Linked DNA regions of Homo sapiens: region 1 is linked to region 2. The links come from fine-mapping of genetic effects on gene expression. A gene starts in region 2. The other region holds a variant in brackets. All regions are shown on one strand. Distances are from middle to middle. Region 1 overlaps SPNS2 (SPNS lysolipid transporter 2, sphingosine-1-phosphate). Region 2 holds the start of SPNS2 (SPNS lysolipid transporter 2, sphingosine-1-phosphate).

What was found. PIP is the estimated chance that this variant, and not a neighbour inherited with it, causes the effect. A credible set is the group of variants that fine-mapping cannot tell apart.
Region 1: its variant is the best candidate, but not a certain one, in a credible set for the expression of SPNS2 in whole blood (INTERVAL, PIP 0.64).

The regions. Positions count from the first base shown.
Region 1 is chr17:4,517,869-4,522,246 of GRCh38, reverse strand. All of the region lies in intron 2 of SPNS2 (SPNS lysolipid transporter 2, sphingosine-1-phosphate), which reads right to left. Among named protein-coding and RNA genes, the nearest start is that of SPNS2, 21 kb to the right of the region's middle. The variant C/A (reference allele first, on the strand shown) is at 2,001.
Region 2 is chr17:4,496,812-4,501,189 of GRCh38, reverse strand. SPNS2 (SPNS lysolipid transporter 2, sphingosine-1-phosphate) reads right to left here and starts at 2,309. Exons shown (of 13, transcript NM_001124758.3): 1 at 1,773-2,309. The coding sequence starts at 2,142. It overlaps SPNS2-AS1 (SPNS2 antisense RNA 1), which reads left to right and starts at 2,455. Exons shown (of 3, transcript XR_001752763.2): 1 at 2,455-3,039; 2 at 3,475-3,648. RefSeq lists enhancers at 875-1,509, 1,510-2,145 and silencers at 2,187-2,236, 2,297-2,446, 2,457-2,516.

The DNA of each region.
Region 1 (4,378 bases), 21 kb before region 2:
GGTGAGGGGAGCCCTGATGTGGCGTGTTTGCTCATTTCTTTTTTTTCTGAGATGGAGTTTCGCTCTGTCGCCCAGGCTGGAGTGCAGTGGCACCGTCTCAGCTCACTGCAATCTCTGCCTCCCGGGTTCAAGCGATTCTCTTGCCTCGGCCTCCCAAGTAGCTGGGATTATAGGCATCTGCCACCACGCCCGGCTAATTTTTGAATGTTTAGTAGAGACAAGGTTTTGCCATGTTGGCCAGGCTGGTCTCAAACACCTGATCTCAGGTGATCCTCCTGCCTCGGCCTCCCAAAGTGCTGGGATTACAGGGGTGAGCCACCGTGCCCGGCCGTGTTTGCCCATTTCTGTGGTGTAAACACTCCGCCCTGGCTGAGTTCAAGCTACCCACGTCGTGTCACTGATGGGCGTTGGAAAGGGATGTGCGGGGACACGCCATTGTCCAGTGTTTCTACCACACAAATAGAACAGACGCCACTCACCATAGGACCACAGATAACGCTGAAACACAGCAAAATAATTAGGAAGTGAGGACTTTTGAGTAGTTATTACCTTGTTTCTAATTATTTAATTGTAAGCCGATATCATTTAGTTTTTAACAATGGTTGTATTTTACGACTAGCTCACACACCATTCCTGAAATGTTAACAATTGACTCTCATGAGCTGGCCTGAGCCAGCGCCAACATGCCAGCATCCTCATCTGTAAAATGAAGATAAAAATAGCAGCTCTCCAGGGTGGGTCTGGGTGCTGGATAGCACGTGCAAGGTGCTTAATGCCACACCCTGCCCAGAGCAGGCCGGCCTTGGTCAACACTGGGCCCTTGTTTAAATTAGTCAAGGCAGAAATTATTTCCTCACATTTAGAAAAAGAATTTTTCCTGCTGGGCCTGCCTCCAAGGACCTGCCTGAGATCAGATCAGAATGTGGCAGGAGGGAGATTTCCAGTTGCATCAGGACTGACACATGTTGGGGGAGGAGGAGGAATTGTTCTCCCTGTGCCTGTCTGTGCTAGGTGGCAAGTGGACAGAAGGAATCAGAAGAGAAGTTTCCCCCTGTCTGGCCAGGGGCAGATCTTGTTCATAGGTTGCTCTGTTTAAAGGACAACCTATGTTGGGGAACCACCAAGGAGCTCCAGATCCTGCCAGGATAATGAAGAGAGGCTTCCCGGAGGCGGTGGTGACAAAGCTGGGCACTGAAGCATGCATAGGAGTTTACCGCTAAGATAATACTTAACATCAAGAATATACGCTGAAATATAAACTTCAGATCAGCAATATTGTATAATGGTTCACGAGGCATGATGCTTAGTGTTCATGATAACTGCAGTTATTATTTATGGATATATAGGCAAGGCCCAGCATGCAGCCTTGACATATGCACAGATGATCTCTTTTGATTCTGTTCTCTTCATTTTACAGAGGAGACAATGGAGGCCAAAAGAAGTGATGTCACACAGCGAGTGTGCGGCTGAGCCAGAATTTAAATCCCAGTTTGGCAGACTCCAGAGTCCTTGCTCTAAATCACTCCCCAGACTGCCATGCTGGGAAGGGGGAAGGTCCCAGCTGATGTTCCCAAGGTCAGGGAAAGTTCAGGGCCTGCTGAGGACAGCAAGGAGACAGGTCAGGCCATGGCCTGAGGATGCTCAAGAGGAAGCAGCGAGAGATGAGGCTGTGGAGGGAGGACTGGGCTAAAGACCAGGACAGGGTTTGGTGTTTAGAAGGCGGCAGAGAACCACAGCGCGCTCTCTCCACCCCGCCCCCCAACACCATGGTAGGATCCTTGAAAAAGCCCCCTCCCGGGGGGGTGACGAGGGACTGGAGGGACGTGACCCAGACCTTCGCCAGACCCCGGCCATCATGCTCCATTCTCTCCTCTTGCCCACAGTGGAGCAGGAAGCACGGGCCCTTCTTAGCTCTTTCAACCCCTCCCTGGTTTCTGGCTCCTCACTTAGATGGGCAGAAGTCCCCAGGACTGCAGGTGGACTCCTGGCAGAAGCTGGCA[C/A]GCCCCGTCCCCACCCACCGGCCCCAGCCTGATGAACTTGCCCAAGCACCTACGTGCCCTTAGCTCACCTGATCCTCCCCACGTCCATCCCTATCTAACAGCTGAGGTCACTGAGGCCCCAAGAGGTGGAGGAAGTTGCCCGAGATGACAGACCAAATTAGGAAGGCACAGTCTGGACCAGCCTGCCCCTCAGTGTCTTCCCTTGGGACATGGCAGTCCAGGGTCAGGAGGGAGGTGGGATCCATCACTGCTGCCCTCTCTCTGCTCAGGACAGACAGGAGGGAGGACCCCGCCTGGCCCCCTGGAGGTCACAGGCCATGGAGGGGCCTGAACACAATCAGGGTAGGGACGGGGAGGGGGCTGAGAGAATGTTCCTGGCAGAAGGGACAGGATAGGCGAAGCCTTGCCCATGTGGACTGTGTCCGATGGGGACACAGAGGCCAGCAGGCAACTCTGCTGAGAATAAAGACCAGCCTGGGCTGGGCCTCCAAGCTAGAAGCTTCCCCTGCCCACCACCCCGCAATCCCGTGGTCTTTGTTTGTTTGAGGAGAGCTTTCTGGGCAGACTGGCAGCCCCACCCCTGGTTTTGGTAGGGGCGGCTTTCCCAGCAGTTCCCGCAGGGACATCCTGTGGAGGGTGTGCTGAGCCCACAGGTCTAGGACAATGGAGAGGCAGGGCAGGGAGCCAGGGCCGAGCGGGCAGGGCCGTGACAGCAGGGAGGGAGGGGTCAGACCAGCCCGCCTGCCTCGGGGTCTTGGGCCAGGGCCTCACTCCCTCCTCCTCGCCAGGCTGGCAGGAGGCCGTCAGAAAGCCAGTGCTGTCCACCTCTCACGGCAGCCCAGAGCTCAGAACCCCCACGGGCCCTCGGTGTCCTGGTGGGCAGCCCCAGGACCCCTGTCCATGGTGAGCGGAGCCATCCCCATGGCACACATGGCCTGTATGACCCCAGAAAGCAGTTTTGGAGCAGGAAAGGGCAAGTCTGAGCTTGAGGGAGCCCTGAGCCCCCGCCCTGTGGCCTTGGAGCCTGCATTCAGCCCTTGCTTCGGCCTGGGCTGAGCCACGGCTATTTTTACATGGCTGATCTGTTATTTGGAGAAGACCTACCATCCTCCACATCCTGTGGGCAGGGAGGGTGCTCAGGCAGGCATGGGTGGGGCGGGGGCCAGGCTCTGCCATCCAAGGGACGGCCTGGGCTGGCCAAGCTGACGGAGAATGCTCAGGACAGATGGCCCCATCAGCGCCTGAAAGCTCACCACGCTCAGACTTCCCGGTGGAAGGACGGGAACACCTGCTCTGTGATCCCCTACTCAGGATGTAAACCTTGTGTTGGGCTCTCAGGCCTCAGGGTGAATGAGGTTTTGGGGCCACTCCTTGAAAAGGAGGGCTTTGGGGAACAGCCGCAGGGGCTGCCCGGCTGTGCCTTCAGAACCCAAGTCTGCTGAAGCAGGAGTCGCTGGGCTGGCCAAAGACGGGAGGGGAGAACAGGCAGAAGGAGACTTACCCCCAAAACAGAGGCACTGTCTGGTTTCGGTTTGAGCTGGCTCTTCCTCTGTCCCCACTCTCCCTCCGTTCCCCCATCCCCATCCTGGCACTTCCTCGTGAGCCTACAAACCCCGGCCCTGAGTAGCCTTCAGCTTCCTCTGCTGCCCCTTCCCACACTTGGTCCCAGAATGAATATCCTGAGACACACATCTTTTTTGTTTGTTTGTTTTTGTTTTGTTTTTGAGACGGAGTCTCGCTCTGTCGCCCAGGCTGGAGTGCAGTGGCGCGATCTCGGCTCACTGCAAGCTCCGCCTCCTGGGTTCATGCCATTCCCCTGCCTCAGTCTCCCGAGTAGCGGGATTACAGGCACCCGCCACCACACCCGGCTAATTTTTTGTATTTTTAGCAGAGACGGGGTTTCACCATGTTAGCCAGGATGGTCTCGATCTCCTGACCTCGTGATCCACCCGCCTCAGCCTCCCAAAGTGCTGGGATTACAGGCGTGAGCCACCGCGCCCGGCCCGAGACACACATTTTACACGGACTGCCCTGTTCCAAAACCTTCTCTGGCTCCCTACTGCCCCAAGACAAAACCTACATGCCTTATCTTGGCCTTCAAGCCTTTCACACTCAGACCCTGCCCACTGTCCAGCCTCTTCTCCTTCTGTTCTCCCCATACGCCAACCCATGGCCAATGGGCCACAGGCCACTCGAGTCAGGCAGTGCCACAAACAGCCTTCGTTCTCCCTCACCCTTCCCTGTGTTGCATTGACGCTGATTTCCTCAGATCTAGCTTCTAATTCACTTTTCTTTTCAACTAGGTGTAGTCTACTCATTAACTCACCTAATTATTCCATTTTTTATTTTAATACATATTTTTCACTTCTGGTATTTTC
Region 2 (4,378 bases):
AAGACCTCCTCCCAGGCAGAGCCTTACTGTTAGAGCTAACACCAGCTTTGCCAGTCACTTTCCTGGCCATCTTGAACGGGGGCTGTACAGGGACATTGGTCCCCCTATCTGTGTACAGAAGCCTTTTGTGAACTGACTACAGGTCCCAGGTATTCTCTGATTTCTCCCCCAAAGGATGGCGCTTATGCTCCCAGGTCCCCGGCAGCATGGTGCATGCGTGACAGCGGCTGGCGTTTTTGGGAGGTGCTCAATATTCCTGCTCTCTAGACCAAAGTAAGTTTCTCTTTGGGATAGCTCGACCCAGAAACTGATGCCACTGGTACCCACTTCCAATTTCCTCCAGCGGAAGGACAGAGAGCCAAGGGGGGTTGAAAGCAGGAATGGGGGGAGGGGGAAGCCTCTGCCCTCCCATCAGAATTCTTCCCTTCCATTTGACACAAAACTCCATTCAACAGACGGGGAGACTGAGGCCCAGAGAAGGCACCAGGTGGCATGTGGTTTATGCCCGGGCTCTCTTCCCTCAATTGCCGCAAAGTTCTCTTTAGAGTCTGTCCAAAAATAAATCCTTCCCTCTCTCCTATCTCCTCTCTCTCTCTGTTGTGTGTGTGTTTGATAGCTCCAGATTTTACTAAGCTATAGTTACGCAGGTTCTGGGCCAGCATGCCAGGCACACAGTACTGCTCTCCTCCTGCAGGGAGCCCCTTCCTATGCCAGTCTGGCCAAAGTCCTTCCCTCTCAAAGCTCCACCATTCCCAACCAGTAGCAGCTCAGTCTAGGGCAAATTCTTACCCCTAGACCCACCCCTAATTGCTGGGGAAGGGAGCCAGCAGAAGGCAATTCCAGAACCACGTGCGTCCCCCAAAGGCCCAATGATCAATCAACTCACAAACGGGCAAACAGACCTAAACACACGCTGAGACTGGCCCAAGGTCACACACCAAGCACATTAGGAGCAAAGCTGGGGCTAGAACCCAGTTGTTCTATCGATCCCAATCCCGTCCCCAAGGCTGATTCCCAGAGATGCTCCCTGAGGATGAGGCTCCACGTCTCTAGCTCCAGAGGCCTGCGCCCTACCCTACACCCCAAGCACCATAGAGCAGGGGGAGGCGTCTCCAGGCCTCTGTACAGGGCCAGCTGCAAACCGCAGCCTGGGTCCCCAGGCGCCGCGGACCCGCCCCGCCCCTCCCTCCGCTCCCCGCAGCCCGGAGCCTTTGTCAGCCACGCGCTCACACACAACCGCGCCGCCACGCGCACACACACCCGGTCTCCCTAGCGCACACCCGCAAGGGGCGCGCGCACTCGCCGCACGCACGCAGGGGGGTGGAGGCGGCGGAGAAAGGAAGGAACTGACGGGCCATGGACGGACAGACGACCTGGGCTGGGGGAAGGGAAGGGAAGGAGGCCCGGGAACCGGCAGCTGGGGTCGGAGGGGGCGCAGAGACAAGGAGACAGAGAGACGCAGAGGAGACTCTTGGAGAGGAGGACAACGGATGGGCCGTCAAGGGCTGGAGAGGACGCGCGGGCTGCTCCAGGGGTGGGGACTCCTCTATCCCTTGGCCCCGGGTGTGTATGAGCGGGGAGCTGGATTGTACCCGTGGTGCACGGAGGCATCCCTTGCCCAGTTGTGCCTGAGCAGAGGGTCCGTAGGGACCTCACGTAGGGCCTGGAGATAGCAGGCCTGAGACCAAAAGCTCTCTGGGGTACCTCCCTCGAGGCGGGTGGTGGGATGGGGTGGGGTCTTGGTCCTCGGGCTGGGTGGGGCACTCGCTCACCTGCCACGGTGTACCTGTCCAGGTAGTTGAGCACGTTGCCCAAGCTGAGGATGGCGGCGGCTGCCCCCCGCCCGCGGCCCAAGCTGGCCGGTTTGGGCTGCTGAGCGCCGGGGCCCTTTGCAGTAGCTGCGCAGCCGGGGGTGCCGGGGGTGCCGGGGGGTCCGGTCGGGGCCCGCCTTACGCTGCCCGACAGCGTCTGCACCTCATCGCCCGCGGCCGAGACTCCAGCGCCGCCCGCGCCCCGCGCCCCGCAGCAACCGCTACCGCCAGCCCCTCGCTGCGCCCCCCGGCGCCGGCGCCGCCGCTCCGCGTCCGCCTCCTCCTCCTCCGCGCCGCCCGCCGCCGCCGAGGCGCATTCCAGGCACATCATGCCGGCCCGGATCGGGGCGGCGGGGGGCGCGGGGGGCGCGGGGCCCAGGCTGGGCCCGCTCAGCGCGTGCGTGCGCCGCGGAGCCGCCACTGCACCATCCTGGTCGGGCCCCGTCGGCTCCTGCGCTCCGGCCCCGGCTGCGGCGCTGCCACCGCTCAGCTCGCTGCGCCTCGTTCGCCGCCGCGGCTCTGACAGCTGCGGCCCGGCCCCGCCCACCAGGCCCGCGCCCAATCAGCTCCGGGCTCGGGCCACAGCCCCGCCCCGCACGTGCTGCCCTGGGGGTGGGGGGCCCGGGGACTGGGGGCCCGGGCGGCAGAGCCCCTCCTGCCAATGGGGGCGCAGTCACGCCGGGGCCGACCGGCCGCGAACGCCCGCGGGGAGCGGGAGAGGGTTTGCTCTGGCTACGGAGCTGGGAGCAGGGTGCTGGTGACGGGGCTCCCAGCACCTACTCAGTACCCTTCACCCAACCCCTGCCTCGGGCGTGGACTCCCGGCGGAGGCTCTGGGAGCCGGGCTGAGGGCTTGAGCCTAGCGTATCTGGGAGAACTGGAGAGAGGAGTCTCAGATGGCTAAAGTCAGGGGCGCCAGTTGGAGAGCCGGTGGCTCCTCCGATACTCACACGCCCGGATTTAACCAGTTCAGGGAGGGCCCAGAACCTAGACCTCCACCAGTCATGGTGGGCTGTGTCTCCCACCTCCCCAGGGCAACCCAGATCCAGCCCCCAACCTACCCCGGGCCCATTCCTGTGTGGGCACCCGGACCCTACCCTTGCCCCACAGAGTGGCCCGCAGCCCCTGGCGGGGAGAGCAAGGGCTGTGATTGGGGCCCAACAGAAACAGGATATTCAGAAGGGGCTTTCCCTCCTGAGGGACCACATCTCCAAGCTTCAGACTTCCAGGTATGTGCTAGAGAGGGTACAAAGCCCCCAGTGGCAGACAGGAGGCTGGGTCCTAGCTCAGCTCTGCCCTGGTGTGTGGCATGATCCTGAACATGACACCCACTCTCTGGGCCTCCATTTCTGTATCTGGGGGCAGATGGCAGGATGGGATTCAGTCTGGAAATCCACGGGTGGTCACCTCCCCTTGGTGGGACGGGGCGGGGGTCTGCCTCCTATGGAGAGTGGTTGGGGTGCTTCTGTGTTCCTGACATCCCATCACGGTTTCACCCCTCCTTAGAGGTGCTGTGGCTCTGTGACGATCTCCCCCTTCCCTCCCCCATTCACCTGTTTGGGGAATTAAAATCGAAATTAAAATCCTGTATAAAGTGCAGAGGACAGAATGTTAGAACTGGACAAACCCTCGGAAACCAGTTAATCATTCCCTGTGTTTCACAGACAAGTCCCAGGGCACGGACGTGACCCATTACGAACAGGCAGTGAAGCTGTGGCAGGGCTGGAGCTGCCCCAGGCTCTGGCATCATCCCCGAGGGCTGGAGCTCACTCCCCGCTAGAGGCTTTTCCGGACCCCACGTCCACAGGCAGGTGCATCTGGTGAAGCTTTCGGCCACAGTGAGTCATGGCATAGCCAACGGGTGACACAGCACGAGGCACCCCCCCCGCCCCCCTCCACTGTCTCTTGTGAGCAGAGTTAATCCCCAAGCTGGTGTTTCTTGGCGCCTTCGAGGTGTATTTTAAATTCTGCAAAGTGACTAAAAATATGCTTCAGCGTGCTGGGTATGAATGACTGTGACGGGAGGGTTAGGAAAACAGATTTCATTCTCAAAGTTGCCTGCTGCCTCTTTCCAGCTCGCTGAGCTCAGGCCTGCAAAGGCGGATGGGGGGAGTTCCCCATGGTGGCCTGGCATGACGGGTGATTAACAAACAAGGACAGAGAGCTAGGAGCTCCGTGGGGCTAGAACCCGGCCCCAGCAATGATCTCGTAAGTGTGTGATGGTGCCAGCAGGTGGACAGAGTCCAGCTGTGGGAGGCTGCCCAGCTGTGGAACTGTGTCTAGTGGTGAAGGAGGCACAACCACAACTCTAGACCCAAGCCCAGGGTCCCCTTCCCGTGCCCCAAAACTCCTCATCCCTTTGGCCACAGTCCTGTCCAGGTGGACACTTTCGGCCTTGACAGAAAGGGGAGCATTCTCTTTCTGCTGCCTTCCCTTTTCACCACTGGGAAGGTCCCAGAGCAGGGGAAGAGGGTGGCATGAGCCTTTCAAACCTGGGGGACCTCTGAGCTGCCACCAAGCAAGCCAGCCCTTCCCACTGTGTTTCACTGGGGTTTCAACTCAAAGGCA